4 separate regions of the Homo sapiens genome follow, and all the other regions are linked to region 2. The links come from fine-mapping of genetic effects on plasma protein levels. A gene starts in region 2. Each other region holds a variant in brackets. All regions are shown on one strand. Distances are from middle to middle. Region 1 overlaps CRISP2 (cysteine rich secretory protein 2). Region 2 holds the start of CRISP2 (cysteine rich secretory protein 2). Region 3 has its middle 36 kb from the start of CRISP2. Region 4 overlaps CRISP3 (cysteine rich secretory protein 3).

The links. A credible set is the group of variants that fine-mapping cannot tell apart. PIP is the chance, under the fine-mapping model, that this variant and not a neighbour inherited with it causes the effect. Protein levels are from the aptamer-based SomaScan assay of Sun 2018.
Region 1: its variant is the best candidate, but not a certain one, in a credible set for the plasma level of the CRISP2 protein (Sun 2018, PIP 0.69). The variant lies in the coding sequence of CRISP2. If it changes the protein, the assay may bind it differently, which can mimic a change of level.
Region 3: its variant is the best candidate, but not a certain one, in a credible set for the plasma level of the CRISP2 protein (Sun 2018, PIP 0.76).
Region 4: its variant is the best candidate, but not a certain one, in a credible set for the plasma level of the CRISP2 protein (Sun 2018, PIP 0.73).

What each region holds. Positions count from the first base shown.
Region 1 is chr6:49,692,346-49,700,457 of GRCh38, forward strand. It overlaps CRISP2 (cysteine rich secretory protein 2), which reads right to left. Exons shown (of 10, transcript NM_003296.4): 6 at 7,459-7,546; 7 at 6,017-6,162; 8 at 5,515-5,612; 9 at 3,491-3,579; 10 at 14-555. The coding sequence ends at 428. Among named protein-coding and RNA genes, the nearest start is that of CRISP2, 17 kb to the right of the region's middle. RefSeq lists a silencer at 1,297-1,497. The variant A/G (reference allele first, on the strand shown) is at 3,509.
Region 2 is chr6:49,710,106-49,718,217 of GRCh38, forward strand. CRISP2 (cysteine rich secretory protein 2) reads right to left here and starts at 3,438. Exons shown (of 10, transcript NM_003296.4): 1 at 3,370-3,438; 2 at 2,396-2,499; 3 at 1,180-1,216.
Region 3 is chr6:49,673,278-49,681,389 of GRCh38, forward strand. It overlaps a transcript of CRISP2 not described here. Among named protein-coding and RNA genes, the nearest start is that of CRISP2, 36 kb to the right of the region's middle. The variant T/C (reference allele first, on the strand shown) is at 3,720.
Region 4 is chr6:49,735,404-49,743,499 of GRCh38, forward strand. It overlaps CRISP3 (cysteine rich secretory protein 3), which reads right to left. Exons shown (of 8, transcript NM_006061.4): 2 at 1,922-1,995; 3 at 988-1,104; 4 at 101-188. Among named protein-coding and RNA genes, the nearest start is that of CRISP3, 4.9 kb to the right of the region's middle. The variant G/A (reference allele first, on the strand shown) is at 6,989.

The sequences.
Region 1 (8,112 bases), 18 kb before region 2:
CATTAAGACAACGGCAGATGTAAAGCTTTGAATTTATTGTTTATGCAAGTAAAAACTCAGGTAGTAGGAATGGCAATGATGTTACAGTCTTCTTCTTTAGCATGTTTCAGGAAATACGTAATGCACCATTTTGATCCAAAGTCCTAGTGACCTAAATCCTATGGTTATACAGTTTTCAAAATCCTCAACCTGATTCAGTTCGTTATAAAGCACTAAATTTATGTCAGAGTTCACAGTTGTCATCATCTACTATGCTACTTTTGTAAATCATTGCCTGAAAGTGATTTCTGTGATGATCTGGGGGAGAAGATGCATTGCTCTTTGAAATCAAATTTGTCACTAACATACATACAATTTCCACTGGTATGTCGCAATTAAATGATGCAGCCCTTATCCATGCAGTCTTGCACAATGCTCACTAGGTAAATCAGTAAATTTTGTTCTCACATAGGCAAGTAGCCTTGCACTTTTCCTTGAGTAACTCATGTTCACAGCCAGCTGTATTCTTCAAGGAATCACAGTTACTTAGGAGATCTTGATACTGGCAACTATTGGCTGTAACAAAAACAGATTAGTTAACTCATTATCGTTTTCCTCAGTAAGAGCAAAACCATACATTCAAAGTGTGTGGGGAGGGGGTAGGAGGGAACAAACAAGTTAGCATCGCTTACACTACAATGGGTCTTTCATGTCTTTATGGCTGCATAGTATTCCATGGTGTATATGTGCCACATTTTCTTAATCCAGTCTATCTGGATCCAGGGACATATGAGGTGTCTTAGTTGAGCTCACTGATAAATCCATCACTCTTTAAATTCCACATTTAGTGATATGTTTCTAAAATAAATTGACCTATTTTTCCCCCTCAGCAAGCAGAATAATATGAATGTAATTAAATCTTTCTATGCCTGCACAGCCAAATATGGGAGCCATTAGCCACACAGAGGTATTTAAATTAAAATTAAAATTTTGGTTTCTTAATCTTGTTAGCCACATTTCAAGTGTTCAAAGTGTGATTAGTAGCACATGTTGATAGAGACTCTTTCCATCATATCATAATATTGGGCAGCATGGCATTACACTCCAATGCTTTTTTTGAGTAAATAATCTTTATGGGTGGATAAAAGTGTAAAACAAGGACAATACGCCCTTTTCCTTTTGATGTTTCTACTTGGATGTTCCCTAGGGACCTCAAACTCAATAAAACTCAAATTAAACTCCTTGTATTAGCTAAAAGGCTGACAATTCTCAGCAGTGATCTCCCTGCACCACCCACAATCTAAGGGAAATGAAGAAAGTTCATTCTTTTTCCTTCTCTTTTTCATATAGCCTGTCTTCAAGCTCACTGATTCTTCTGTTTAATGAATTCTGCTGTTGAGACCATCTAATGTTTTTTTCAGTTTATTTATCGTATTTTTCAGCTTCAGGATTTCTGTTTTTCTAAATGTCAATCTCTTCTTCAAATTTCTCTGATAAATTTCTAAATTGTTTCTCTGTGTTTTATTGAAGTTTGTTGGGCTTCCTCCAAACAGCTATTTTGAATTCTGTACCCTAAAGATTACACATTTCCATCTTTCGAGGGCTGGTCACTGGTACTTTACTTAGTTCTCTTGATGAGGTCATATTTTCCTGAATGTTCTTGAAACTTGTGGATTACTATCTCAATATCTAGGCACTAAAGAATTAATTATCCTAGTCTTTGCAGTCTGGGCTTGTTTGTACCTGTTTTTCTTCAGAAGGCCTTCCAAGAATTTAAAGGAGCGAATAAGTCTCCTAAGATGGCAGTTATTTCATTATTAGATGATGTTCTAAACCCAGGTTTGCTGCAAACTTGGTTACGAGAAGGGTGACATGGACAATTCCCTGGATGCCACAGCTGGCACTGTGCCTTGATGCATCTGAAGCCCATGGACTCTCAGACCAGGACAGAACCAGGGCTTGCCCAAGGCCAGCAGCTGTTATGACTTTCCAGCTACTACAATTCATTTGGGGTCTGAGGCCATTTTAGTTGACCAGTAGTACTGGGACTTGAGTCTGTCCCACTGGGGCAGTGGATTCCTTTTTGGTGCTATGGTGGGTCTAGAGGCCCACCAATCTGGATACCAATCTGCATACCAATCTGGATTTAGGAGCTGTGGGTTTCTTACTGGTGTGTGTTTTGTTGTGGCAGGCTCAGTACTAAATCCAAGGCAGAGTACCCCACACACTTCCTTCTCTTTCCCCCAAGTGGACAGTGTCTCTCTCCCCTCTGTGTTACCTAGGGTTTATGAGAGGGGTGATGCAGGCAATCCCATGGACACAGCAGCTGATACCAGCTGATACCATGACAGATGAATTCCAGACTTGTTAGCAAATAGCATTCAGCAAAATGTATAAGTATTCAACTATTTTTTTCTTTTTTTTTTTTTTGAGACAGTCTCGCTCTGTTGCCCTGGCTGGAGTGCAGTGGCCGAACTCGGCTCACTGCAATCTCCGCCTCCTGGGTTCAAGCGATTCTCCTGCCTCAGCCTCCTGAGTAGCTGGGACTACAGGCATCCACCACCACACCTGGCTCATTTTTGTATTTTTAGTAGAGATGCAGTTTCACCGTATTGGCCAGGTTGGTCTCGAACTCCTGACCTTGTGATCCGCCCACCTCTGCCTGATTTATAGCTTTGGTATCATTAATATTCTGAAATATAGCTATATAACTGAGTCAGAAAAAATGCTTAGTAAAGGTGAATGCATTGAAGAGGTAAAAATTTCAGTGATGGTGTCAACTTTATCATTCATAATAATTTTAATAAAAGTATCCCAACTACAGAAAGCCAGCAGCTATTTTTACTTCTATTCATGGCAATTTATTAAATGAGATATATGGTATTTATTTCATTTTCTCCTTTTGCAAAAATATGTGCACAGTTTCTATGAGCCAATATTGTATATAGATTGAGTTTTGTCATAAAAATGTACACAAAACAATTATGAAATTATAGGGCAAGTAATCATTTATTAAGGCAAACACTATGATCCTAATTATACTATAAAAAAGAAGTGAGGAAATCAGCATGACAAACACATTAGCACAAATAAACAGTAATATTTGGCGTGCCTGTCTAGACTGAGCCATAATGTGGTCTCACACTTTAGATTTATACATTTTGATTCCTTTAAAATACCACTTTTGGTATAGTGATATGAACTTTGAGAATTGAACTATTTACCAAAATGGTATATGGTTAATATTAAATGGCTCTGAAGAGCCACAAAAACACATTGATGATAAATATTCCATTATGTTACATACGGCAATATGCTTTTCATTACAAATAATATGTAGCTCCTGCAGTGTGTAAAATGTTTGTTTAAGCATACTTTGTTGAATAATTTTGGGTTTTTTCACCAATACATTATTTCAATTCATTACGTTAGGAGATTTGTTAAATTATATAAAGAAAAGATAATATCAATTCTATAATAAATAATAGCAAGCTAATCACTTCAAACTTACTGCATAGTCCTTTGTCAC[A/G]GTCATCAGGGCAACCGGCACAAGGTGTTCCTTGTTGGTACGGGGTATTCTTTCTATTCATATTATTACCACTGAAATTTGAAATACATGTCAAATATTTTTCACTTTACTGTTTATACTCTAAGGGCAGTATCAGTCATCAAATATACATAAATAGTTATTCAGGGTTTTTAGTATGTTAACAAAACTGAAAAATTACAATTCCCAATGTGTATTTCAGATAACAATCCAAATTAAGAAAATGCTTCACACATGGACATATCTTCTTGACCATAATTTCACAGGCTGGGTAACTAAATTTGATGACAAGAGTCTGAAATTTTGAGAGTATATTCAGTGTGGCAACACTATCTTTATCTCCCATTATATTTAGTCAAATTACTAAGGCAGTGTACCCCAAGGTGCCAATTAGGGGTAAAACATCCTGTAGAGGGAAAGGAGAAGATCCTAGGAGTAGCAGGTTGTGGCAGGAAATGAATATGCAATGTTAAAATATCATTTTCCATTTGAAAAATGGAAAAAACTCCATAGTATCTCTAACAGAAACTATGAAAAATATAGCTCCAGAGTATTTTTTTCTTCCAGATGGAGGTTGCGATTTTTCAGTAGTTAGTGGTGTGTGTGTTTGTAGGAGTGTGCTTAGGAAGGTTTGTGAGCTTCTAGAGGTGGCATGTATGAGATTTTTACATTTACCAAAATGGAATATTAGTTTTTGTTATCCCAGAACTTAAAGTAAAAAAAAAAAAAAGAAAAAAAGATTAAAGAAAAGTTTTGATAAATACTGATATCCAGGATATAATAGTTTTGCAATGATTAACCATAGGATAATGATGATCATTATTCTATTGGCCATTAAATTCATTTAAAATTATGTGGGAGTCCAAATCTCAATAGACCAAGTGGGGTAAGGACCCAAGGAAGTGCAGCTGAATCTCAGTCTCTTTGCCTAGAATATAGCTGTGTGTGTATGAGCTCTTGGAAAATTGTGAAACAGATATAAAAGGATTTTAAAAGTTCTAGTTCCCTTGGCTTCCCTCATGATCTATTCCAACTGTCACTTCTGACACCTGGCTGCTGATGCTTCCCTCTGAGGGCCAGTAAGTGAGTTTGGATACATTCTCCCAGGGCCTTTCAATTCTCTCTACTTGAATCCTAATAGGTACTTTAAAGAAAATGACTTTGGAGGTTATACTTCTCAAACTGGAATCGTACATCATCTTCGCTATCTACAGTCTCGAAACAAATCCTGTAGCTGTGCCCCCCACCGCAGCCTCCAGTAGTAAAGAATTTCAAACACTAAATTTGATATTGTGAATATCTTCTTAAAATATCCATAGGATTTATTGTGGATAACTCTAAACATATTGTTTAATGAAGAAGCATGTTTACTGCTACAAATCAAACCTTACAAGATGGTTAAAGAGCTTTCTGTGAACAATTCTGAGAATCAGAGACTTAAGATGTTATCTTTTCTGTATTCTGAAATAAAGATGTCCTGAAAAGCCATTGAAATCCAAATGAATGAATAATTTGTAATGGTAATTGTGTGTGGTGGTGTGTGTGTGTGTGTGTTTTACATAAGCAGAAGTAGGAATATTTGAGCAGAAAGGGCCAAAATCACAATCCATCTTCCATTTGCAATCTCACCAGCACCCTAAAGCATCTATACTCCTAGAGTATGAAATTAGCAAGATGTGATGATACCAATTCTAGAGAAATACATATTACACATGCTCACAGAGTAACCCTAAGCTGAGGGAAGGCCAATTGAAAGAAAAGACATTATTCTGTTAATGAGGAATGAGAGCTTCAGTTTTTATACCTGAAAGTGAGAAGTTGTTCTCCTCTGAGAAGTTGAAAGTGTCTCAACCTTAAAAAACATTTCCAAACGTTTATCCCCTCCCTTTTATTGAGATATGTTTTCATTCTGGTTTAAGATATGAGAATTATTAAAAAATAAATTGCAGATAGAATTATTGCCATTAAACTCTAAACAGTCTACTTACGCAGGACAATATTGGCAAACATAGTAGTATTTTAGACTATCTTGATTGGGACAGTAGGCAATTCCACAGCCTACCTGGTAAGTCGAGTACCAAACAAGCTGCAAATTAACAATGGAATAAATATATAAAAGTACATTAGAGAAGATGAAAAATATTTAAAAAAGTAGCAAATATAAAACTGAAAAATGTTAGTTTTATAGACATATACCATAAAAATATTTAAATTATTGAACCAAAGTCATAAACTTTAAAAATATTTAATTTTCATGTACATTCATCACTTTAAAATTTATAATGTAGGAACAATACAGAGTCTGCTTTCCTACTAAGAGTTTGGCTGACCATGGACAAAAATGACAGCTCTACAACAGCCAAATGCCAAGACTGTATTCTACCCACTCGGACTGTTCTCCTAAATTGAACATTACAGTGGTCATAATTTGGAGAAGCTTTCCTCTATTAGAACATCTGTGACATAGGTATTTTCATGCATTCTTCTTACCTGAGTATAATGTCCAACAACTGCATTGGGACTCTTTGGTCCTACACCATAGACAAAATCTAGGATCTCGTCATACCAGCTTTGGATTGCAGAAGACCAGGAAGTAGGGTCACTTGACATATAGAGATTCTCACCACATCTTGTACCTAAGGGGCAGATCATTCATGAGCAAGGTAATAAACATGCAATGGTAAAAGAAATTGACTACACAAACACAAAGATGTTGCCTTTCAAACCCAGGGTCCAGCAGATGCTAACTGTTGATTAATACATAAAGGAGTGCCTCAGTTCCTTATCAGCTATAAAGCTGATTAGAACACTTAACTGCCTGACACACTGAGGTTGGCCTGACCACATAAAACTTTGAGTAGGTTAACACTCTGCTCCTTAAAAATGCCCTTGCATGCTAAATTTTCCACATGTGTATGCCTTGAGTGTTCCCAGCTGTATATGGTAAGCTTGCTAAAGGCAGTGACCAACTCTTATATTCTGTTTTCTGCTCTAGTAACCCTCAACAGAGATTTTTCAAATATAGGACCCCAAATAAATGTATAAGACTTTGTGTGAAATCTGAAAAAAAGACTTTATAGGCTGTCTTTAAGAGTCCCAATCAAGAGAAAACTGACACCAGGAAGGATAACAGTTTTCAAAATTTATGGGTTTTCTCTTAACCAGGAAATCAGATATCACAAGCTGAAATCCTTGTGAGTTTGTCAAGAAGTGCCTTACAGCCCAGAAACACTTCATAAATTATTTGGGCATTTACTAGTTTTTATAATCCTTGATATGTCTTTTTAAAACTCGAATATAGTATTCTGTGCATTGTAGGTATCCAGTCCACACAAAATACTTGCTAGTCTGATATTAAAAATTAATATATTAATATATTCAAAAATATTCATTTTTATAGAAATTTTGAATACGATAAATTTAAATCCACTTTATCCACTTTTATCCACTTTAGAGCAAAACTTAGGAATAATTCATCATAAGTTCAATATATTTTATGGATACAAAAAATAGATTTCAAAACATCAGACAGCTACATAAATTAACAAAAAGGGCAGTGGGTTAGAAATCAGAAAGCTTGGTTAAAAATTTCTAGTATGACACTGTTTCAGATTATGTTCTTGGGTAAGTCACTTTTCTTTCAAATTCTGGCTTTCTAATCTTTAAACTTACAAAAAGAAAGATGATATAAAATCTGCTGTACTCATGAGCTGGTTGCAAGAAGCAAAATTATTTGCATAATGTACACAATAAAAAAACACAAAATTGTTCTTATTGTAAATACCCCTCTGTATACAGATACTTTGACTTCAAAAAGACAGCAGTATAAGTAACATTTATTTTCAAAGTCTTCTTATTATAGAGCATCCTACAATGCTCTATTATTATTTTATTCATTTATTTATTCAACAAATATTTACTAATTTACATACTGGTTTTGCGGTCCTCTGGATCACTATGTTGTAAAGTGCACTTGTTTGCCCACCTTTGGGCATTCGTTGTTACCTCTCTGCTCCATTCCTAAACGTCACAAGAAAACAAAATACACTTAATGATTCAGCCACAATGAAACATACACTTTATAATCTGATTTGTAAATACTTTAAAATTTCTGTAGATGTATTCTCTAATACTACTGTTATTAAAATGTTTTTAAGTGTTTTTATCTCTTCTGGTGCCAGTTTACACATGATGGGTAGTCCATAGGTAATATATCTAAAAAGCAAAATAAGACAATAATATGTGATTATTTATGATAGCAAAGCAGCCATACCTAGGATATTTATTAATGATGCTAGTCTAAATATTGATAAGCATGTGAAATATTCTAATTATATTTTAATAGTAATAAGATGGCCAACGTTATTTCCAATTCCATTTGTTTTCATATGTAAGCCATTGCTTTCATATCGGAGATACCAGTCTTTCAGGGACTGTGCCCTGGGAAGTGGGCTTTTACTCACAACAGCTGACACATATCCTGAAGGAAGGGGGATTTCTTGATTGTAAACCAGAAAAGAGAATTAACAAAAAGTGTAATGGCTTAACACTGAATGCCTGAATATTTGACTTCCAATTATGCCTTC
Region 2 (8,112 bases):
TTGGAAAGAAAGAAAATTCCGAACAATTTATCTGTGATGCTTCTCAGGCTTCACTTACTGTAAATAGTGTATCATTGATACTTGTTCCATCCATTGCCTTTATGCTCAATTATGTGCAAAAAAGGGATGAGGGATGAACAATTATTGACGGTTCATGGAAAATGATATACAATTTCACTCCCATACCTTACTGGGTATTACTATTTATATTGTATGGATGATGTAATTGAGGCTTAAGACAGTTAATTAACCTATGCCAATGCTACGTTCTTAGGTAATGTCAGAAATTAGTCTTCATCCAATTATGACTTCGAAGTCAATGACTTTGAAAGAGACATTGACTCATTGAAAGAGACACAGTTTTAATTGGGAAAAGGCAGACATTGTTGCAGCACAATGGAGACCCTTTATTTTTACTTTAATAATTCCCTTATTAATACATAACTGTATATGTTAATAGTAAAATCATTAATATGCCAGCTTATACAATATACTTAAACAGCCATACTTTTCCATTTTCCTATTAAAGGTAGTTCTAGTATAATTGTCTCAAGTCACAAACATGAGAATTAATTCCATTACTTATTTTTAGAATAAAATGTAAAAAATTTTTACATATCAAATTTTTTTGTGTGTGTGCGTAATATTGCTGTAATTTACCTTCTTAACTGTAAAAGAATAAAATTAACTTGAGGTCATTCTCAATACAAATTTATTAAAGTTTTGAAAATCATGGATAGGCCAGGCACAGTGGCTCATTCCTATAATCCTAACATTTTGGGAGACTGAGGTGAGAGCACATAACTTGAGCCCAGGAGTTCAAGATCAGCCTGGAAAGCACAGTGAGACCTCATCTCTACTAAAAACAAACAAACAAAAACAAAACATAATTAGCTGGGCATGGTGGCAAGTGCCTGTAGTCCCAGCTACTCAGGAGGCTGAGGTGGGATGATCATTTGAGCCTAGGAGTTTGAGGCAGCAGTGAACTATGATCACAGCACTGCATTCCAGCCTGGGTGACAGAAAGAGACCCTGTCTCTAAAACAAACAAACAAACAGACAAACAAAAAACAAAAAAATAAAATCATGGGCAAACTCATTAATCATTTTACCCTTGACAACATAAAAATGATTGGCATGATAAAATATTCACATTAAAATCAATGATTTAACACTTACTGTTGGTTTTCTGAGCAGGATGAAATATCTACTTTATCTTTAGAAAGAAAGAAGGTGGAAGGTTTAGAGCAGCATATATATTACACATATTCCTGTTTTGTCAAACTCTGGTTTTGTTAAATAAATCTAAGTCAACAAAGTTCTGAAGTAGTATTTTTCATACCAGTAACCTTAAACTTCATTGTCAGTTGTCTGATAATGCTTTTGACATTATTTGCTTCCCACATAGTTTTTAACATGAGTAAGTAAATCATGCCCTCCCTTTCTAATCAGTTCTCCCTTCTCCTTAGGCACACGATAATCTGCATGTGGCCTTTTTGGACTAGTATTTCTATATTGACAACCCAAGACAGGTTAACTACTGTGAAGGTTACCAGGATTCTGCCTTATAGCTGAACTCTCATAGTTCAGCTGTCTATGATTTTTACTTTCTAATTATCAACTACCTGTAGCTTATTGGTTACGGGTGCATTCTTTGGAAACCATCAGGTCTGGGAAATCTATGCCAAGCTTCAGTGTTTTTCTTATGTAAAATGTAGATTTTTATATCACAGGTTTTTGCTTTGAAGACTGGAAGGGACAATGTATGTAACACCTCTAATACAATAAACACATTATGCACATAATACAAATAAACGGAAATTATTCATGTTTTTATTATCTTTTGCAATGTCTGCTAGTTTGTTGAGCTCATAAGAGCTTTCTATAAACATATGCTGTTTGATTGAATTGCTAATTACTAAGTGTTTAAGAGACATGTGTTTCCTTCCAGGTGTTATAGGAAAATACAATCAGTATAATCTAATTCGAGATTCACATGTTCAAGGCCTGGTTCTATTAGACACCTTCTGGCTGACTTTAGGAAAATGCTCTAACATCTGGGCTGTTGTATCCTCATCAGCTCATTGAAAGCCATACACAGGAGCCTGAAGAGTTTTGTATAGCTCAATCACCCAGTGTATGCATCTGATGAGCCAGAATTCTATAATAGGCCATGATGCCATACTCTCCTCTTTGCTGCTCTTCTCTCTCATAACCTCAACCATCTAACCTATACTCATCTTCATTGAGTCAATGAAAGCAATGTCACTGTTGGTGAGAGTATATTCAAGGAAAAATATTTTTTTCTATTCCATATAATTACATTTTATTCCTTTAAACCCATATTGATATATAGTTGAAAAGTTGGCTACCATTTTTTTTCTTTGCTACTTACTAATGGTGAAGTACTGTGCTCTTTCTTGCAGGTGTTTTAAGATCAGGATGACATGGTTTTCCTAGAGTGTCTTTAGGAGGGCCATGGTGTATAATTTTATAACCCTAGAACAAGGAAACAAAATATTTAAAATAAAGATGTGAAGAATACCCTTATAGATGGTATCTATAATCTTTGTCACAAACTTAAATTTTGACTCAATTGTTTAGTATTGTTTCTAATAATTTACTGTATTTATTTGATTTCAGCGTTAAGACCATATTGTCCTTCTGAGGTCAGATTGTATTTCAACGCCCTGATATTTCCTTCAAACACTAACAAAAAAGTGGACTTCTTGAAGTTCAGTAACTACTAGTTGGCTAACTTGCTTGGAAAATTGCAACCTTTTTTCAAGACTCCCAACCCCTTATCTAGGACTTCAACCCATTCTTTAAAAGATCATTTCCATAAGCAGTGTCCCACATGGTAAGTATTAACTACGTGGATTTGGGGGTAACAGCTTTGTCTCTTCATTTTTTTTTTAAATTCTGGAAGCCAATAGATGATATAAAGTCCAGCAGAGTCAATGACCCCAACTCTAATTGTTATTACAGTTTCTAATAACTGTACATTCAAAACATCAATTAGAAACTAAGAGTCTTAATTTGACTTCGTAAAAAGCAGATTGAGAAATGACTTCAGGCTTCTACTATGATTCAATGGGTCTTATGTACTTAGAATGATTTCTCTTTTAAGGTAGGTAAAGAGTTTCAATAGACTAAACATAGAGAAGCATGTTGAAAGTTATGGTAGGTCGGCGCTAAGCAACAAAATTGAACTCTCAGTCTGCCCGGCATTAGCTATGTGCCCTCCAGATGCCGGAAGAGGAGCGAAGGAGGATCAGAAACCCCCTCACCTCAACGATGGTTCTCTCCCCTGTGCTTCACCCCACCTCCCCGTCCCTAGCCATTTCTAGTCTCCAATCCGGGTCTTACATTTACCCTGGCTCCAGAGCACAGACCTTCCTGCAGTTGGGCCGGCGCGTTGCGGCGTTGAGGAGCTGCGGCGCGCCCCTCTCACCGCGATTGTTCACTTGCCAGGCGCCACGTGTGGGCGACGTCACTGGGCTTTATGCTTTCATCGCCGCTATCTGCCTACGTGAGCTGCTCTCCTCCCATCGCCCCCGCCTCCCCTACTACGGAGAAAATCTTGCACGTTTTCCCTTGTGAAAAGCAGAGTTCTCTTTTTCTCATTACCACCAGTTGATGAGGAAAGAAAATGTCTGTTCGCATACCTGCGCCGTACTAGGAGGAGGAGGGAGGTCATATAAGGATTCGGGTTGCCCAGGGGGTGGCTTGAAAAAGGAGGCGTTCGCATTCAAACAAGAATGCCTGAATTAATGTAGTTCAATTTAAAGAGCTAATTAGGAGTCCACAGGTGCTTAAGTTTGCAGTGCGCTGCCAGTGTCATGCCAACGACGCACTCCAGTTACACAGGTTGTCAGTTTCAGGCTCCCTCATAAACACTTCATGTTCTTGTCCCTCTTCCCCGTTGGCAACAGTTTTATGGTGAGAAAATTCACGAAGAGTAACAGGAACAACTCTTATGAAAATACGCAGAACTCCTGACCCAAGGCTACTGGCTGCAAGTTTAGCATACGTATCAAGCATGGGTTAAAGACATGTTTTCTCTCTCAGAAGGCGGATGAGTAATAGGTGCATTTTCTTCTATTCACAGTTGTTTTCAAAGCGAAAAGGAGTGAATTCGCTTATGACCTAGAGGAAGAGAGATGGGTCAAAAGATGTCAAGCCAAGGATTAATATCCGTCATACCTTGGTTCTCTGTAAGCCATGCAATAAGAGGCTTGAGATTTCACCAACTCTGGAGACTCACTTGGGCACAACTGAAACTATAACAAACTTGGTGCTCAGTGCCATTTTCCTTTGGCAGTGTTACAAGGTAATTTCAAGGGATCAGCACACAGACATTGTTTTAGTTTTCTTTTGCTGCTTATTTCAGTTCATGCAGCACTGACTAAAAATTTTGGAATTTAGACTGCTTAACGCTTATATCTACATCCAATATCAAAATTCATTACTGACAGTTTGCCTTTCTAAATATTTATGAAATCTAGTCCTCAATCTGTCCCTCACTTCTATATTCATGTTTTCACCATATCTTGCTTAAGTTATTAATTGGACATTTCAAATACCTATATGCACAAAATCTCTGCCTACCTATTTGTTCTTTCTTTCTAGTGCCGAACAATTCATTCTCAGCACTATAATAGTCTATCATTTACTGTGAATATCTTATTTTTCATTTTTGGAGAAGAGTCATTCCTGTAATTATTACTTGTTCCCATATTCACATTGATGATATCAGAATGAGAGCAACTTGAGCGCTGTGGTGCCAGATATTGTTGGTGAACCTGAATTTCAGAAATTGGCTATGTCTGTCTTGATTATTGCTGTATCTCCAAAACTAACACAATACCAAATATAGGTGGTAGTTTGTAAATATTTGTTAAGTGAGTAAATATTGACCCGACATAGATTCTTAGAAAATACAGAAAAAAGGACATAAAATCTCTTTCTTCTAAGACTCATAGTACTATGAGAGAAAGGAGTATGTATATGAATAAGTAAAGAATACTATTAGGTAGTGTAGTTTAATGCTAAGTAGGGCGACCAAAAATATATACAGTAATTGAGAGTTCTGTGAGTTGATATGATCTGGGTAAAACCTAGGAAAGTTTTGACATTTGAACTGTTATTGAATAATGCGTATGGCTTGATTTGAAGGGAGAAAGAGTTGAAGAACAAAAGCAGATAAATCATTATATCACAAGGCATATTCAAGACAGAAAGACTGTTGAAAAGGTTGGGGAAACTTTGTATAGAAGTCTAAGGAGATTTGCTTCTCTGTATAACATGGGAAAGTAATTTCATTGACATTTTGGAGGGTTGGGAAATTCTTTGATCAAAAGAATGTTTCATAAAAGCCACCTGATCTCACTGCATGGGGTGATTTACAGAGCTGAGAAATTGATGGCAGCAAAAATAAGTGTGGTAACAATTCCCCAGATTAATTTTGTAGTAGTAGAAATAGGACAAAAGGGTGGAATATGAAGAGATTTTTAAAAAGTGTTGATAGATTTTGTATGAAGGGCAAATCCAGAATAGAAGACTTGTAAGTTTGGTGCCTGAATGTGTTGGAGAGCACATGGAAAGTAGATCTCCATTACTGAGAGGAATAGTACAGGTACTTCTAAGAACATTGCCAGGAGTCCTTTGCTTTTCTAGAAGGGCATCATTTGTTAGTTCCTTTTTCTATGGTTTGGAGTAAAAGAAGCAATGATTAGAAATGCATTCCTCATAGTAGGCTCTATAGCAGATTCTACTGTATAGGATATAGTTAAATACCAGACTTTAAATTCTCTTGTGAAAATTATGATAGAATTGGCTGAATAGAGAAGTATCTGTGCAGCTGCTGGCACTTGTGGCCTATGGAGAAATACATCAGATGAAGACTATAGAGATTTAGCTGTAGAGGATAAATGAAGAGATTGCTTAGTTAAGTAAGTAGACTCTTTAGCTCATTTTTTGATCTATTTAATTTTAGGTGGTTTGGTTTATGGGTAACCTGGGTAAAGAGCATACTCCAAACTCTTGGTATTATCCTCCCGATAGTCATAATAATAGTTTCCCTGGTACACTGTATTCTCTCAAAGGTTTTAAGTGCTTCCACGCAGCCATTGCTAGAATGTCAAATGGTCTCTCTTCAATTAGAATGACAAGAGCTGAAAGAAATGTGTGACCATGAGGACACCATAACCTATGAATGATGTGGTGAGACCAGAAACCCGAAATAATGGTAACTGAGAGTGGTGCTAAGGCCCTAAGTTTTGGTCACACTCTCACCTAAGTGAGAACCTTATCAAAAAGGGGGGAATTTTCTTTTTAAGCAAAAGCATAGGAGGCAATTGTTTTGGACTGAGTTCATGCACTAGGCCCCAAAAGACCAAACCAAACCAAACCAAAACAGAGTCGCTTGTGCTAAGACATTAAGGAAACACATAGATCCTAGAAAAGACCAGGTTTTGTTTTTCTCCTGCAAATTTCCATAACAAACATTGCTGAAAGAATAGGTATCCACCCCCTAAAATTCCCATTAAATCTTTAACCCAATTCATTTCCTCTCGCCTAGAGACGATTAAGCTTTAGATGATCATGTGACAAGGGTTCCAGCCAGTTCCAGGTGAAGATGCCTCCCCTGGCCATCAAGGAGCTACCCTTCCTTCACTAGAGAGAGCAAGGCAAGAGGTCTGTGATCCCCACACCAGTCATAAAGCATTTACAGAAGAAAGACCATCGGTTGTTCCACCTCCCATAAAGACTTATGGAGATCACATCTTTCAGGGGGAAATTGAGGCAGGAGAATAGGGCCTAGAGGCAGAGAACGAAAGGACTTTCTAGAACTAAATCAAGGGGAAACACTTCTTCTAGAAACACTGTATTGGTACAGAAAAAATTTCTCAAGTGAGCATGTGTACAACTCCATTAAACACACTGTGCATGAGGCTGCTCCCAAGTGCTAGCAGGCTACTGCACATGCAGATGGCCTAATCCAAGGGAAGAGTAATGCAAGACCCTGGAAGTATGCCAACATATAAAACCCCAAGTCAAAAGGTCAAATTGTTAGAGGAAAGAATGGCTACTCCATAGGCAGAGCAGCCCCAAGGGCTGCTGGTTGCCAATTTTTATGGTTATTCTGATTATATACGAAACAAAGGGTGGATTTTTCATGTCTCCCCTTTGTAGACCATATAGGGTAACTTCGTGACATTGCCATGGCATTTGTAAACTGTCACAACCCTTGTGGAAGTGTAGCAGTGAGGACGACCAGCAGTCACTCTTGTTGCCATCTTGGTTTTGGTAGGTTTTAGCTGACTTGTTTACTGCAAACTGTTTTACAAGAAAGGTCTTTATGACCTGTATTTTGTGCCAAACTCCTATCTTATCCTTTTACTTAGAATGCCTTAACTGTCTGGGAATGCAGCCCAGTAGGTCTCAGCCTCATTTTACCCAGCCCCTATTTAAGATGGAGTTGCTCCGGTTCACATTCCTCTGACATTTCTCCTCTCCCTTTTATAAAAGAACCCTTAATCCTAACAGTTGCAGAAGGATGAAGATTCATCTTCTTTAACTTCTTCAGGCTGAATGGGGCAATGATATTTCTGTGTAACTATTAGGGTCTCTTGTGTTCAGGGTACAGAGGAGTTCAGTCAGAATGCATTAGTATGATGAAGGCCATTCATAACTCTTAAGTTCCAAGAAAAGGTGATATCTGGAAGATTTTTTTAAAAAGTTGAGTAAGTTTATCCTCTATTCCTACACAAAGAGCACAACAGCAAGATATTTTAAAACAGTAAAGCAGAATAAGCAAAATTGTCCTAAGTTAACTAAATTAGAAGGCTTTCCATGAATTGGGCAACTATTGAAACCAAGCTGATATGGGGTCACTAGCTGATTCCAGTGTGCCCAGAATTGGAATATTGATTCATATTTTTACATTACCCATTCCTTTATTTTCTTCTGAGCAGCAGCCAGAGATTGCTGGTTGGTTCACAGGAATAAGCAGGGTTAGTCTAAATTGCAGAAAAAAACTCAAAACAACTGATGAGACTAGAATCTAAGAGCAAGTACACCATAGTTCTTGAAACATAATTCTCTCTC
Region 3 (8,112 bases), 37 kb before region 2:
CACATGGATACAGGGAGGGGAACATCCCACACCAGGGCCAGTCAGAGGGTGCGGGTCTGGTGGAGGGATAGCATTAGGAGAAATACCTAATGTAAATGATGAGTTGATGGGTGCAGCAAATCAACATGACACACGTATACCTATGTAACAAACCTGCATGTTGTGCACATGTACTCTAGAACTTAAAGTATAATAAAAGAAAAAAAAAACTTTTTGTGTGTGTTGGCTTTGCTTGCATATACAACTTCTGTTGAAAACACCCTACCTTGGATCACCAAAGTGTCCCCTTAACGACTTGAAATCATTAGGTGTTATATTAAATATAGGCCGACATCTTAGAACATAATAATAATGTAAGAGTGAATATGTTTAAAATGTAATGCAATTACTAAAAATATAATTTTAAAAAATGGAAGGGTCACATGTTCATGGATGGCCTAGTTTATTAATGCTAGACCATTATTTGTAAGAGCTGTGACTACATGTAATAATTAGTCTCATAGAAGAAAGAAGCCCATTGCTTCTTGGCTCCCATGGCGCCATGGTTGTGTTTTCTAGGAAGTCTGAGGCAGCAGGATACTGAACCCCATGCCTGTCCTGTTAGATCAGTTAACATGGATCGGTGACCTTTCTTTTTGTCCTTTAACTAGACAGGGACACCTCAGTTTCTCAGAATCAGTAGAATGTTGAACATACTCACTAACCCATCTGGTTCTCTGCCATCAGTCTTGTGCCCTGTCTAAAGTGTTGAAAGGCTATATTGCTTCACCCTTGAGTTAAAGATCTTATTTTTTTTGAAGTCTGGCCTAGGGAGGCTGGGAGATGACATTAAATCTGTTTTATTCATTCCATGCTGCTGTGTAAAAATCCACTCACTGAAAAGATAAATATCTTGCTCTTTGTTTCATGTTTAAAATTACAGGTTTTTAAATAAGATTATAACATAATGTTCAGGTAAATCTAATATATGGAGGAAGACAGAATCAACAGGACCACAGAGAAGATAATCTGGTGACTTGATGATATTGAAAAGTTTTGGCTCCAACAGTGTGCCCACTTTGGGACTTTTTAGTCGTACGAAGTCAGAAAAAGCTCCTGGTTTGTTTAAGTCATTTGGAATTAAGTTTTCTGATTTTTATAACAAGAGAGCATTAATATATCTATGTAGTTAATTGGGAGCTTACATAAAAGATGATATTTTGAAATTGTACACTCTGATGAGTAAGATTAAAATTCACATTTATAGACTATCTATTACAGATCTTGGATTTGGCATGCATGTATTAAAAGCAAGTTATGTTCTAGGTGTTGGTGACATCAAGAGGAAAATAAAACATCATATCACTCCTTTGAGAGATAAAGCAGAAAAGCCTGGAGTACTACAGCAAGAAGAAACTACTTATTCTTACTATGCCATCTGATAGGGACTCTGATATGGTTTTGTTCTGTGCTCCCACCCAAATCTCATCTAGAATTGTAATCCCATTGTGTTGAGGGAGGAACCTGTAATTCCCATGTGTCGAGGAAGGGAAGTGATTGGATTATGACGCAGTTTCCCCCTTGCTGTTTACATGATAGTGGGTGAATTATCACAAGATCTGATGATTTAATAAATGGTAGTTTTTCCTGCATGCTCACACTCTCTACTGGCACTTTGTGAAGAAGGTGCCTGCCTCCCATTCTGCAATGATTGTAAGTTTTCTGAGCCCTTTCCAGTCATGAGGAACTTTGAGTCAATTAAATCTCTTTTCTTTATAAACTATCCAGTCTTGGTTACTTCTTTATAAAAGTGTGAGAAAGGATTAATACAGACTCCCAAATTGTTGCATTGGGAACTATTGGGAAGGGGAAAAGGTTGGGAATAGAGTTTATAACCAATTTATGAAAGATCATAATATTTCCAGTTAAATGCTGTATTCTATAGGAAAGATAATGTTTTGGAGGATTTTTAAGCAGAAAAGAAACACTTAATAAGTTATGACCCAGGAAGAATAGTTTGGTAGCAGTGTACATGATGAATTGAATTGGTGGAGATAAGACATTCATAATTAGTAGACAGGGAATACAGTTTAATGAGATTTGCAGATGGCTCTCAGATTCTTACAAATCCAATCTTTTCCCTTGTTTCAAGAATTTGTAATAGGTCATGGTTTTCAAGTATTTTCTCTTAAGTCATATTTTATTAAAAACTCCCATATATAATCATACTTTAGAAAATAATATCTTCATGTAGTCTAAGCAAAATAATAATGATGTCTAATGTTTGCATGTTTACCATCACAAAATATTCAGAAATATAATGTTGTGACATTACAAGATTCTGAAGTAATGGGGCAGGAATTTTTATTTTCTCACTTAGAAAACTACGACTCAGAGAGTTAAGTGATTATATTATATGATGTGTGAATTCACATAATGGAAGCAGATGTAGATTGTTATTCTCTAGAGCTTTTTGTTTATTCATATGGTGTCACAGGAGGCAGAACTGGACTAGTGCCTACTTTTTTCCACCAAACAAAACAAAATTAATTTAGTTTTTCACCTACTTTGTCACCTTGATTTAGTGACCTGAATGTATACAAAACCAAAGTCTTTTTCTCTACTTTTTTTTTTTTTTTTTTTTTTTGAGACAGGGTCTTGCTCTATTACCCAGGCTAGTGTGTAGTGGCATGATCTTGGCTCACTGCAGCCTTGACTTTCCAGGCTTAAGTGATAATCCCATCTCAGCCTCCTGAGTAGCTGGGGCTACAGCTGTCCACCATCATGCCTGGCTAATTTTATTATTATTATTGTTCTTAGTAGAGATGAGGTCTCACTATGTTACCCGGACTGGCCTCAAAATCATGGGCTCAAGTGATCCTCCCACTTTGGCCTTCCAAACTGCTGGCTCTGCCCTGTTAACCTTGACTTTAAGATTATTTGTTATCCCTGACAGCTGCAGTTCAATAAAAAATTTGGCAAGTCAGCACCCTAACTCATCACTTCAAGTTGCCAATAAAGATGATAAACTGAATTTGCATCCTTATTAGTAATGATCACCTCCAGTAAATGGAGATCTTCATTTTGGAAGATAACATAAAATCTATCCACATTGTTTTAATATATTGAGACTAGTATCTTCTATAAAGTCTAATCAGCATTTACAAGACATATTAGTGTCAATATATATTCAATATATTTTTAAATGAAAGACTATATTGTGTTTGCCAGAGCTAGGCATAATCTGCTGGTTATCCAGTCTGTGTACAATCATAAATATAAATTTTGTATATCAATGTCCACAGTTGCCTTTTAATTTCTGTGTTTGTGTTACAGGACTGCCAGGTTTGTATGCTCATTGTGCAGCAATGGACCAATACACTGAGGCAGCAGGGTTTACAGCCGAGAATGAGTTTAATAATCACAAGGCCTTTGAACTAGGAAATGAGAGGAAATCTCAAGCCACAAATTTGCTCCATGAAGGGGTCCTTTAAGGAGACTGTGGAGGATGAGAAGCTGAAAAATTTGGATTGTTGATTGGTCAGGGTAAGGGGGATGTAATCATCAGGATGTTGAAACTGCATTCCTCCATGAGTCAGTTTCTTGCTAGGTCGTTCAGAGCAGCTGGCATCACTAGTTTTGTTGGTATGTGGAACCTAAAGAATAAATTCAAAAGCAAAGATTATCATCTCACAATGCCTTAGATTTTATCTATGGAACAGAAAAGGAACAAAAAGTCT[T/C]GTGACAAGGGCTACCTTATACTGGGGTAGTAAGCAGTGACCAGTTACAAGGAAGAGGACGAAAGGGCAAGCTGGCTTAATGATTAGTGCTGATTGTGCTGCCAGCTTAGGTGAGCTTTATTGTTTTCCTTAATCAACTTTGGCAGCACCACTGGTGTAGTGGTAATCATGCAAGAGTCTCTTAATCAATTTTATAAAGTTATCTTGGCGATGGTTTCATTCTTGTTGATCAAATGTATTGTGATACGTTCTTTCCATTAAGTTTTTAGATATTTTTACTTTGTCTTTCAAATTTACATGCCCCAAGCATTTAGGATATCAACTTACCATATTGAAATAAAAAACACTGTATTAACGAGAGAGTGAGAACATGGCATTCAACTAAACTTTTATGATTCCTTGTATTTATTATGTTTCAAAGGGAAGTTGGCTCTTATTCCTTCCTCCCATAGAGTTGATGTTTCTTGTTTACCAAAGGAGCACGGATGACAACTATTCTCTTCTTTGTTTTTGGTAGATTGAAGGGCAGGTAGTGTTCTTTCACATACACTTACAGCAGGAAATACATTAAGGATTTCTTTGGCAATATGAGTAGCTTCTTATAATGTCCATCTCACAAAATACAGTCCTGTGGGAATTATTGTTTTCATTCCTTATTTCCTTATGTATCTATTCATTAAATTATTACTCAATAGCTAACGTCAAGTGGAGTACTGGGTGCAGGATACTAAACAGAGGACTAGCTAAACACACAGCAAGCTTAATAATGAATAAACATACACTTAAGGAAGTCTAGGGAAAGCCTGAAAGACAATTTTTTAAAGGACTGGAACTTTATAAGGAAATAGGTAATGAAGGCAAATATAATTATAGTGGATACATAAGAAATAATGGTATTCAATTGTAAATTCTTGATATGATCACTGATACTGGAGTTAGAGAAACTGGGTTTAGGATCAATGTTAGACTTGCAACTCCTACTAAAGATCTCTGCAACCTCCTCTGCTGGAGTTCCAGTGTTTCTGTCTCTCAGAGTGAAGGGCCATGGAACCTCAGAAGGACTTCTGAGCTCTGAGATAACATACTTGCAGGGTGAGTACATCCAAAGAACTGCATTCAGAATTATAAAACAAAAATAATATCTAAAATAGAATACTAGAAAGGTGTTCAGAAACAATTCAACACAACAAGTATACCCTGAACATCAGTATGGATCTACAGGGTGCTAAGCGCTTTAGCGGGCACTAGAGAAAAATCATCTATTACTCCAAATAGCTTATATAAACTGATTGGGTTGATGAGGCATGCACAGTTCACATGAGCAGTGTTGTGTCCCCATTTCAGCATGGGTCCACATTCCAAGAAATGCCATTCTAACTCTAGAGGCTTAAATAAACTCCAATTGCTTTTCTACAGTGTATGGTTTTTCTATAAAACTTGGGAGAAAAAATTTCCATCTTATTACACTTTCCCAGACGAATCTGTACAATGGAGACAAAAGAAAGTTATTTATAACCAGTGCAACTTGCTGTCTCATCTCTTAACTAGTTCCCCCCGACTCCCTGGCTTTCTGTTTCTCCGGTGGGATTGGGATATTTGTAATTGCAGAGAGTGTAAATGTGATAGCATCGGGATTTAAATTGAAGGAGGTAAAGAGCATCTCTAGCCTGATGCACTCATGTGTTTTACCATTAGAACTAGTCTTTGCCCACACGCTTCTGATCACTGTACACTAAGCAGGAGCAGCATCAAGTTGATACTGTCTCATTTGAATTCCTCCTACAAAGGTCTTTCACCTGAAAAAGAGGTTAGGTGGCCACTTAATATTCCACAGTGCCAAAAACAAAGCAAGCATAAGAATGTCCCTGACTCCTCAAAATGATCGTAGCTACTTATGTCTGTTGTATGCCACAGAATTGGTGTCCCAGTTGGCTCTGTGGGATGTCCTAATGAATGGGACAATTTTAATACACTTTGCCTCCCTATCACTATACTTCAGACACCAGTTCAAGTATTCTGTTAACATTTAATATCAGAATAAAATATAATGTTCTGCTTATGTTCTGCACAATGCACTTTAGAATGAGACTTTTATTGAGTGAACATTTTCCTATAAAGGCAATTTAGATTTGCATGAACACATTGGTAGTCTTATCATACTGTTGTCATAAGTCATTTTTGCACTTAAAAAAGCTCTAAGTCTTTGTCATATGAGATACTTATGCACCAAGTATTGCTCAACTTGTTCTTTTACAATTGATTTTTAACCTAAATTCCATCTTAGTTACTACTGCATTCTAGCTTTTGATGTTTGCCACCCTTGAGTCTGTCAGTTAAGGTACAGTATTAGCCACCTGTTCAAGATTAGGATGATTCTGTTCACCTTTAAGGACTCCTCTTTTTATCATGACAAGTTATTTAGAAAGCTAAGCAATGTGATAAAAATGTTGTTTTTTGAACTTAAAATGAGAGCAAAGGGAAATGGTTTTGAGAGGAATTTTATTCAGCTCACAATAAGGTTAATGGAAGAGTCCTGTCCTGGGTGGAATATTCTCCCCTAATGACTGCACTGGAGTCTGTCAAATTTGGTGTCTGCCTTCCATATTCCATGCCTTAGGTCAGTCAATCACAAATTTTCATAGTTAGAACACACATTGCTGAATCTTACCCCAGTTTCTGATTCAGTGTTGTTGTTTTTTTTTGACATTTATTTATTTATTTATTTTTGAGACGGAGTATTACTCTATCACCTAGACTGGAATGCAGTGGCACGATCTTGGCTCACTGCAACCTCTGCCTGCTGGGTTCAAGGGATTCTTGTGCCTCAGCCTCCCAAGTAGCTGGAATTACAGGCATGTGCCACCATGCCCAGCTCATTTTTGTATTTTTAGTAGAGACAGGTTTTCACGATGTTGGTCAGGTTGGTCTCGAACTCCTGACCTCAGGTGATCCACCAGCTGTGGCCTTCCAAAGTGCTGGGATTACAGGTGTGAGCCACTGCACCCAGCCGACTTTTATTTTAAATTAAGGGTATATGTGCAGGTTTGTTACATAGGTAAAGTTGTATCATAGCAGTTTGTTGTACAGATTATTTCATCACCCAGGTATTAGGCCTAGTATCCATCAGTTATTTTTCCTGATCCTCTCCCTCCTGCATCCTCCACCCTCTGATAAGTTCCAGTGTGTGTTGTTCCCCTGTATGTGTCCATGAGTTCTCATCATTTAGCTCCCACTTATAAGTGAGAATATGTGGTGTTTGGTTTTCTGTTTCTGTGTTAGTTTCCTAATGATAATGGCCTCCAGCTCTATCCATGTTCCTGCATAGGACATGATCTCATTCTTTTTTATGGCTGCATAATATTCTATGGTGTATATGTACCACATTTTCTTTTTTCCAGTCTATCATTGATGGGCATTTAGGTTGATTCCATGTCTTTGCTATTGTGAATAGTGCTGCAATTAACATATATGTGCACGTGTCTTTATGATAGAACAACTCATATTCCTTTGGGTATATACCCAGTAATGGGATTGCTGAGTTGAATGGTATTTATGACTTTAGGTCTTTGAGGAATTGCCACACTGTCATCTACAATGGCTGAACTAATTTACACTCTCACCAACAGTGTATAAGCATTCCTTTTCTCCACAACCTTGCCAACATCTGTTATTTTTTGACTTTTTAATAACAGCTATTCTGACTGGTGTGAGACGGTCTCTCATTGTGGTTTTGATTTGCATTTCTCTAATGATCCGTGATGTTGAACTTTTTTGGTATGATTGTTGGTTGCATGAATGTCTTCTTTTGAAAAGTGTCTGTTCATATCCTTTTCCCACTTTTTAATGAGGTTTTATTTTTTCTTGTAAATTTAAGTTTCCTGTAGATGCTAGATATTAGACCTTTGTCAGATGCATAGTTTGCAAAAATTGTCACCCATTATGTAGGTTGTCTGTTTAATTGTTGATAATTTCTTATGCTGTACAGAAACTCTTTAGTTTAATCAGATCCCATTTGTTAATTTATGTTTTTGTTGCAATTGCTTTTGGCATCTTCATTATGAAATCTTTGCCCATGCCTATGCCCTAAATGGTATTTCCTAAGTTGTCTTCCAGAGTTTTTATAGTTTTGGGTTTTACATTTAAGTGTTTAATCCATCTTGAGTTAATTTTTATATATGGTCTAATGAAGGGGTCCAGTTTTAATCTTCTACATGTGGTTAGTCAGTTACCCCAGCACCATTTATTGAATAGGGAGTCCTTTCCCCATTGCTTGTTTTTGTCAGATTTCTCAGAGATCAGATAGTTGTAGGTGTGCTGTCTTAATTCTGGGTTCTCTATTCTGTTCCACTGGTCTGTTTATCTGTTTTTGTACTTACCAGTATCATGCTGTTTT
Region 4 (8,096 bases), 25 kb after region 2:
AAGCAATATTTATTTACAAACTTTTCTTAATGCAACATCATAACATGGTTTATTATTTTACTTGTTGATTTATTCAACAAATATTTCCTAATTTACATACTTGTCATTCGATCCTTTGGGTTACTGTGTCTGTAATTGCACTGGTTTGCCCACTTTTGGGCATTTGCTGCAGCCTCTTTGTTCCATTCCTGAAACAAGGACAGAAAAAAGATATCCACTTAATGTCTCAAACCTCAAAGGAGCATAAGCTTTATAATCAGGTTATAGGTTGATTTACATCATCATAAAATTTCTGTACAAGCATCTTCTGATTTTTATAGTAATCAAATGTATATATTTTTTATGTGCTTTTATCTGCTCCACAAAGAAATATAGGTAATATGCCTACCCTAAGTAATCAAAAAATCTAGGTTTATGGTCCAATTATTTATCACAGGACATCAGAAACACCTAAAGATTTTTTGTAATGGTCCTGTTCTAAATATTGATAAACATGTGGAGGTGCTGAGATTGCTTTTCCAACAATGAAGTAATTAGCTGGCTTACTTCATTTCCAGTTCTTTTTTTCTTTTTTTCCCCCTCACTGAATATGTTCGGGAGACATGTGGCCTTTGGTACAGGGCCCAGAAAAGTAGATTGTTATTTACCCTACATGGCATTTATCTTAAAAGGAAAAGGTCTTTCTGATCTCAGATTAGGACAGATAAGATAAGGAGCAGAAAAACATAATGGCTTTTCACCGTATGTCCAAAGATTAGGTTTTAATTCTGCCTCCATAATTTAAATAGCCCTATGAATTTGACGTTATGCAACCATTATAAAGAGAAGTTAAGAAATTCAGCTCTGCCCATTACACAGCTCAAATGAAACAAAAAAATACAGAGAGAACTTTGTAAACTTCAAAGTTATTAAGAGATATTAGTTGCCAGCCGCCTACTCCTTCCACAGCTTGTTCACACCCCTCTCCTTTGCAATATCACCTCTTACCATCTTCAGCATGTTTCTGGCAGGGGGAGATACTGCTCTCCTCAGTTCATTGTGCTTATTCACAATCTCCCTTTGCACTTGTGTTTGGGTGGTTAACAAAGCAGTAAAAGCGGGATCCTAAGGGAAAATAAAATTACAATTATCTTTTAACATTGTTGGAAATTGCACATAATAGTAACTATGTTAGTTCAAGGGAACAAAGACCATTTTTAAAAAGTGTTGCCAATGCTAGGTAAACATTGTCAATGACTGCCAAAGCTATGACTTTTTAATGGAAAAGTATTAGATGAAAGTTTTCAGAATGGGGATATAATTCATGGCATGACAAACTAAAATCTCCTCTGAGGCCACAAATACCAATTTCTGGGTTAAGAGAGGTCTTAATGTGATTTTTCTAAATATATGAGTGATAACATCTTATAGTGACAAGGGTACATGATAGTAATTATTAAGACATTCACACTCAGGCTGCAGCAAAGAAGTTGTAAAGATTGAGGCATATGATTTACCCTAAGACTCTAGGGGGAATTTCTGCCTGAAATGGTGTCTGGTATTTAGAAAAAATGCTTAGGCTCAGCCTAAGTGCATGTGTAACATGCAATACTCTAGTAAAAGAGTTTTATGTATTACGTAGCAAATATTATGGGATCACTCAAAAGATAGTTTTACCACATTAAAAAAAATCTCCAAGGCAATTTGCGGGGTGGAGCAAAGTCATTTAATTAATGAACTTCAATACCCTCATGTGGCTAGGGGCTACCATATTGATCACCACAGCTTTAAACATAATTATGTTAACTACCTTGAGCTACTAATGAGTACTTTATGATGTACCAGACACTCTAGACCTTTTCACTTTTGAAGATTGATCTAGTAGCTTGCCATCCCTCATGGTTGCCTGAATTTTTCTGAAGATTTTTGACTTCAACCATACCTTATCTTCATTTGCTGGAAAAGATGGAAGCAGCCCAGCAACCAGGAACAACAGCACTGGGAATAATGTCATTGCTGGGAAAACAAAACCGGTGGAACAGGGATCTGCATTAAAATGATTGGTACATGCTGTTGAGTAACATGGGGGTGGGAGAAACGTAATGACCTCCATTATCCCAAATTCATTATTAATGTAACAGGAGAAGACTTGTCACATGGAGCCAGCAGAATGACAGTGGATTCAGCTTTCAAAGTATGCATTCAACTGGGACTATAAAGAACAAACCAAAATTCCCGACTGAAGCCCTTGAAGCATGCCTATAAATGCTAAGGACTTTCTACCTCCTTCTTCCGCAGCTCCGCAGTCTTCTCTGTGTAACTACTGTCTTTAGGTTGTAGGAGTGGATTCTTCACAATAACAATTCAGTAGCTTCCAACTGTGTTTATTACTGGGATACTACTGCATTAGCCCTTGCTGATTTCCTTAAGTGCTGTCTACACTTTTATAAATATAACCTTATTAACATTTCTTCAAATTAAAAGTTAGCATGTGCCAGTTCTTTTCCGTCAGGGATCTGGCTCATATACTTGCCATTCTTCAAACCCTAGAAAGTCCTCTACGTATATGCTTTTTATGCATACCTTTAAACTACTCTCTTCAAGTTTACCCATGCAGCCAGCATCCTAACTCCTTTCCTCTCAAAACTTTCTTTAATACCATGCCTCAAATTTAAAAAGGCAACATTTTTTTCCTCTGGATCTTAAAACAAAAAGGTAATAATTTGATTCTCATGTTTAAGGGATTACTCACCCTATCTGTATTAATATCCTTAATATGTTCACATTCTTTATCTCACTAATTCAACTTCTTAGAATTCTACTGAAATTATAAACTATACTAAAAAGTTTTAAGCATAAAATTTTCATCATGTTATCATTTATAAGGGTTAAAACATTGTAAATTAATTACATGCCTAGCAATAGGGAGATATAATGTCTAAGTAAATGAGAATACATCCTCTTATGGCAGTATATTAGACATAAAAACCACTATACATTTATGGTTGTTTTGTAACCTCAGAGAAGAAGCTTATGCTTCAGTGTTAAGTTTAAAAACAAGAAAGCAGAACAAATAGTATATGGTAGATCCTTAGCCTTCTGATTTGGACTGAACGTTAATAGAAGTAGTGACTCATCCTACAAAAGCTCTTCCTTCTTAGTTATTCACTGGTTCCTCCTGAACCTCAGCTCTGGGGGCTGGGACTGGGTCTCCCTTAGACTATGAACTTAGCTAACACCAAATCCCCACAGAACTCCCAGAGGAAGAGCTTTCCACCCCAGACTGGTTCCCAGCACTAAATTCAGCTTTCCTTCTCCTAACCAGCACCTCTGCACCCCACCACCCCGCCCACTGTGAATCTAAGTATTGGGATGCAGCCTGATATACACTTGCAAAACCCATTTTCATGCTATTAAAGTCAATGTCACAAACCATCTCGTCCCAGCATCGCCCCACAATCACCCCGCAAATATGGGACTTTGCTGGTATCCATTTGTATCACTTTTTCAAAGATATTTCCAATGGAAGAACAAGAAAATGGGAGCAGGGGAGATATACTTTTGATAACAAGTGTGGTTTTATTTTGTCCAATGCATTAATAAATACACTTGAAGTCTGAAAAAAAAAAAGAATCCACGAAAAATGATGTTGCCAGAATGCAGATCTGGAGCTCCAGAAGATTTCAAACTACTAGTGTTATAGACCTTGAAACTCACTCAGAAATAACTTAACCTGGCCCTGCTTCCACTTCTAAATCAATATGTTGATGCCCTAACTCCTAGTGTGCTGTATTTAGAGATGGGCCCTCTAGTGCGTCTCCTGCAGAATTTGAGAGCAAAAGAGGAAAAACAGATTCTTATTTTCATTTGTAAGTCAAAGACAATTAGGTATTCTTCTTTCCTTTAGGAGACATTTATCAAGTTTTGTACACTCTATTCAGGATAACATGTTATAATATTGCTGCACATGATCAAGTGAACAAGACTTGGTTCTTGCCCTCAGAGTCCTGGTATATAATTACGGGAGCTCATCATTCAAGTACCCAGAGGGGGAGCTGGTTGAATTTTCTCATGTGTGCAAAAGAGGAGAGTAAAATTTTATTTCCTTTTACAGTGATCCATTCCAATGCTTTATGGAGAGAGATGGGGAAGAATCTAGCACAATTCAGGGCTCAGGGAGTAAACAACTTGAATGAGATAAATATGATAAAGATGTAACATCAGCTTTAAGACCAATAATGGTGACAGAGAGTCGCTGTAATATTTCACTCCATCCCCACCTCTCCTCCCAAGGGACTACTGTAAATAGCAGGTGCAAGTGGAAAATGATTTGTTTGCAATTCCATTTAGTAGTAGCGTCACATAGAAGGTACTAGAAAGAATGAAAAAAAAATAGCCTCTCCTGTCATTCACTTCCATGAAGCAATTTCTAAGTGTATTAGTTATACATTATTTTCTACTATTCCTTGGAAATAAGCAGTAGATTTCTCTTAATTCATTTCACTTGAAAGAGTTATTTTGCTATGTGTAAGTCACTGAGTCCTACCTTTTATATGGTTTTCTGTTCTGTTCTGGTTTTCCTTTTTCAAAGAAATTAATAATTTATCTCAAGTGTGATTAGAGAAAAACCAAGTCCCTGGATTTCAAAGATTTATGATTTCAAATAGTGATGGTTTGCTACTAATTCCAGATCTACAGCAGAGCAAATTGTGTCTTTCTGAAGCATAAATGTATATAATACAATTAAACTGTAACATACTGTGCCTTCTTCACACTGATGTTAGGACCACTGGTATGTTTGAAACACTCCCTTGGAAAAGGAAATCATTTTATCAAATGACCTGATATCACTGCATATTGACTGACAACATATATCTACAAAAACTTCTATAGGCATATCTGGCTTTAACAGTCCATTTTGTGGAAATAAGGATTTGCAAATTAGGAAGTAGGACAAATTTGCTTAGTGCTAAGAGAAGAATTAATCAAATGGTCTATTTATAAAGCAAGCCTTTGGCTTTTATTTCAGGCACAATATCAAAATAAGCAAGCTTCTTGCTGCCACCCCAAAATTAACTCTGAAAAAATTATAGAAGCAAGAGGGAAACAGGGATTCCAAGAAAATACTGAAAAGATAGTGAGAAAATCTGAGGAGAATAAAGTCTCTCATGACTTCTAGAATGTGTATATGGATGTGTGTGTGTGTGTGTGTGTGTGTGTGTGTGTGTGTGTTGTGTATAGTGAATGTGAAGGAGAGGGGAGTGCTGCATCCAACAGCAGTGGTTGGTCTAAAGTAATGCCTGTTAGTTTCTACTCTTGCCTCAAAACAATCGATTCCTCTTTATTTGCAAAATTCTGCAACAACAGAAAAACGCTTGCTCTAGTGCTATGTGTCAGCAAAGTAGCATCGAAGAACTGTAAGACCCATCCTGTGTGGGGCTGGATGCGGTGGCTAATGCCTGTAATCCCAGGACTTTGGGAGGCCGAGGTGAGCAGATCACGAGGTCAAGAGATCGAGACCATCCTGGCTAGCACGGTGAAACCCCATCTCTACTAAAAATACAAAAAATTAGCCGGGCATGGTGGCGAGAGCCTGTAGTCCCAGCTACTCGGGAGGCTGAGGCAGGAGAATGGCGTGAACTCGGGAGGCAGAGCTTGCAGTGAGCCGAGATCGCGCCACTGCCCTGGGCGACAGAGCGAGACTCCGTCTCAAAAAAAACAAAAAACAAAAAACAAACAAACAAAAAAAACAAACAAAAAAAAACCACCAAAAAAAAAAAAACAAAAAACGAAAGTACCATCCTGTGTGAAGAACCAATGATAATAAGGTCATGTGTGATAGCACTCTCCAGTGCTCTTATACTCACGCCTTCTTACTCCCTAGTGTTGTATGGTTCAAATTAGCTTGACTACTTCCTCCCAATGCTGTTTTTTCCTGAAATGTAATCTGAGGAGTGGATATAATTCCGGGATTGACTCATAAAAGACGTAAGAATAATAGTAAATAATACATAAGCCCACTTCATAAATGAATTGCAAGAATCCTAACAAAATATTAACTCATCAATTTCAAAAATATATTAAAAATATCATGACCAAGTAAAATTATATGAGGACTGCAAGAATAATTCAAAATTAGAAAATTCATTGGTAAAATTCATCACATTAACAGACTAAAGCAAAGTAATATGACAAAAAATACGTCATTAAATTCAACCCCTGTATGTAGTTTTTTTTTTTTTTTTTTTTTTTAAAGAAAAAATAGAAGAGATCATTACTTTGGTAGGAAGCATATACTGCAAATCTATACCCAATATAATGGTTATTGGAGAAATTCTAGGTGCATTTCATTTAATATTGGGAACAAGAAAAGAATGACTAACACTTTTATTTAACACAGTACTGGAGAGATCCTAATCAAAGCCATAAGAAAAGAAAGTATATACATATATATATATATAATATATACAAGTAATGTAATGTATACATTTTATGTTATATATAATAATATAAAATATATTATTATATATAAAATATTTGTAACTTTTGTAAGAGAAGACGTAAAATTGTTATTGTTTTCAAATGATAAGATCATCTATCTGGAGAACACACCAAAATTAACAATTTTGCTAGATGCACTATCAACTTACAAAAATACCATTTCTATTACTGGAAACACTCAACTAGAATATAAGATTTAAGAAACACTTATAACAGTTAAAAAAACTATACAGTATCTGGGAAACAACAAAACAAATTTAAAAATCCTTTTTGGAAAAAATCTTAAAACTTTAATAAAGAACATAGCAGAAGTTCTGAATAAATTGAGAGTTTTGTAATGCTTTTAAATGGTACATGTTAGCATAAAGATATCAATCCTAAACTAACCTGATAATTGTTTACTTTAATTCCAATACAAATTTTAAGTGGCTTATGAATAACTGAGTAAACTTTTAAAAGAAGAATTGCTTGGGCGCAGTGGCTCATGCCTGTAATCCTAGCACTTTGG[G/A]AGGCCAAGGAGGGTGGGTTGCCTGAGCTCAGGAGTTTGAGACCACCCTGCGTAACATGGTGAAACCTCGTCTCTACTAAAACTACAAAAGTTAGCCGGGCATGGTGGTGCATGTCTGTAATCCCAGCTACTGGGGAGGCTGAGGCAGGAGAATTGCTTGAAACTAGGAGGTGGAGGTTGCAGCGAGCCGAGAGTGTGCCACTGCACTCCAGCCTGGGCGACAGAGCAAGACTCCATCTCAAAAAAAAAAAAAAAAAAAAGGAAGAAGAAAAGAAAAAGAAAAAAAAGAAAGAATTAATTGGGTTATCTTTTCATATTAGTTATTAAGATAGACTTCAAACATTTGTTGACAAAAATTTAATATTATTGTAGGAACAGATAAATCAACTGGTGGAGGAAAATACAAAACTTAAGAGACAGACCAAACATCGTAACATTAAAAAGCAAAGGAGGAAGAACAGACTATAGAAATATTTTAAAGGATTACGTGGATTAGAAAAGATGTCAAAAGCATTAACACATGTGAGTATAATGTGTGCACTATAGGTATAGACACATTTATAAACTAGTCACAGCACAGAAAAGTATTTGATGCAATATTTTCTTACTTAAAATTTAATAGTTAATCTTTATTCTGATCACTTTCTTTCATCTTATTATGTATCTGTGATACAGAAAGCAGCCTATGCCAATATGCAAAGTTTGCAAAACTGCTAGACTTCATCAAGTAAGAAATTCGTAAAGATATCCAAATAAGAATAGCTGTCTTGCATTTCTTGAGAAGCACTTTTTTTTCAAGGATGAATTCCCTCCCTTTTACTTGAATTCAATAAATAACGTAACTGAAATTCATAGCAATTATCAGATTTACATTACTTGAGAATTCTGACACTCTTCCTCCCAATTCATCCCTGCCTGTTACAAATCAGAAGCCCCAATTTACCTCATAACTTATCAATGTAGGGTAACTCCCAGGCTTGAAACTTGTCATCAATTTAATTTCTTTTGATCCACTTTCAGAGGTCTTAGTCATACAGGCAGACATTCTAGATTTGGTTTTAACTAGCAGAAGAGGCAACACCGGATCTTCTATGGCTATTGCAAATAC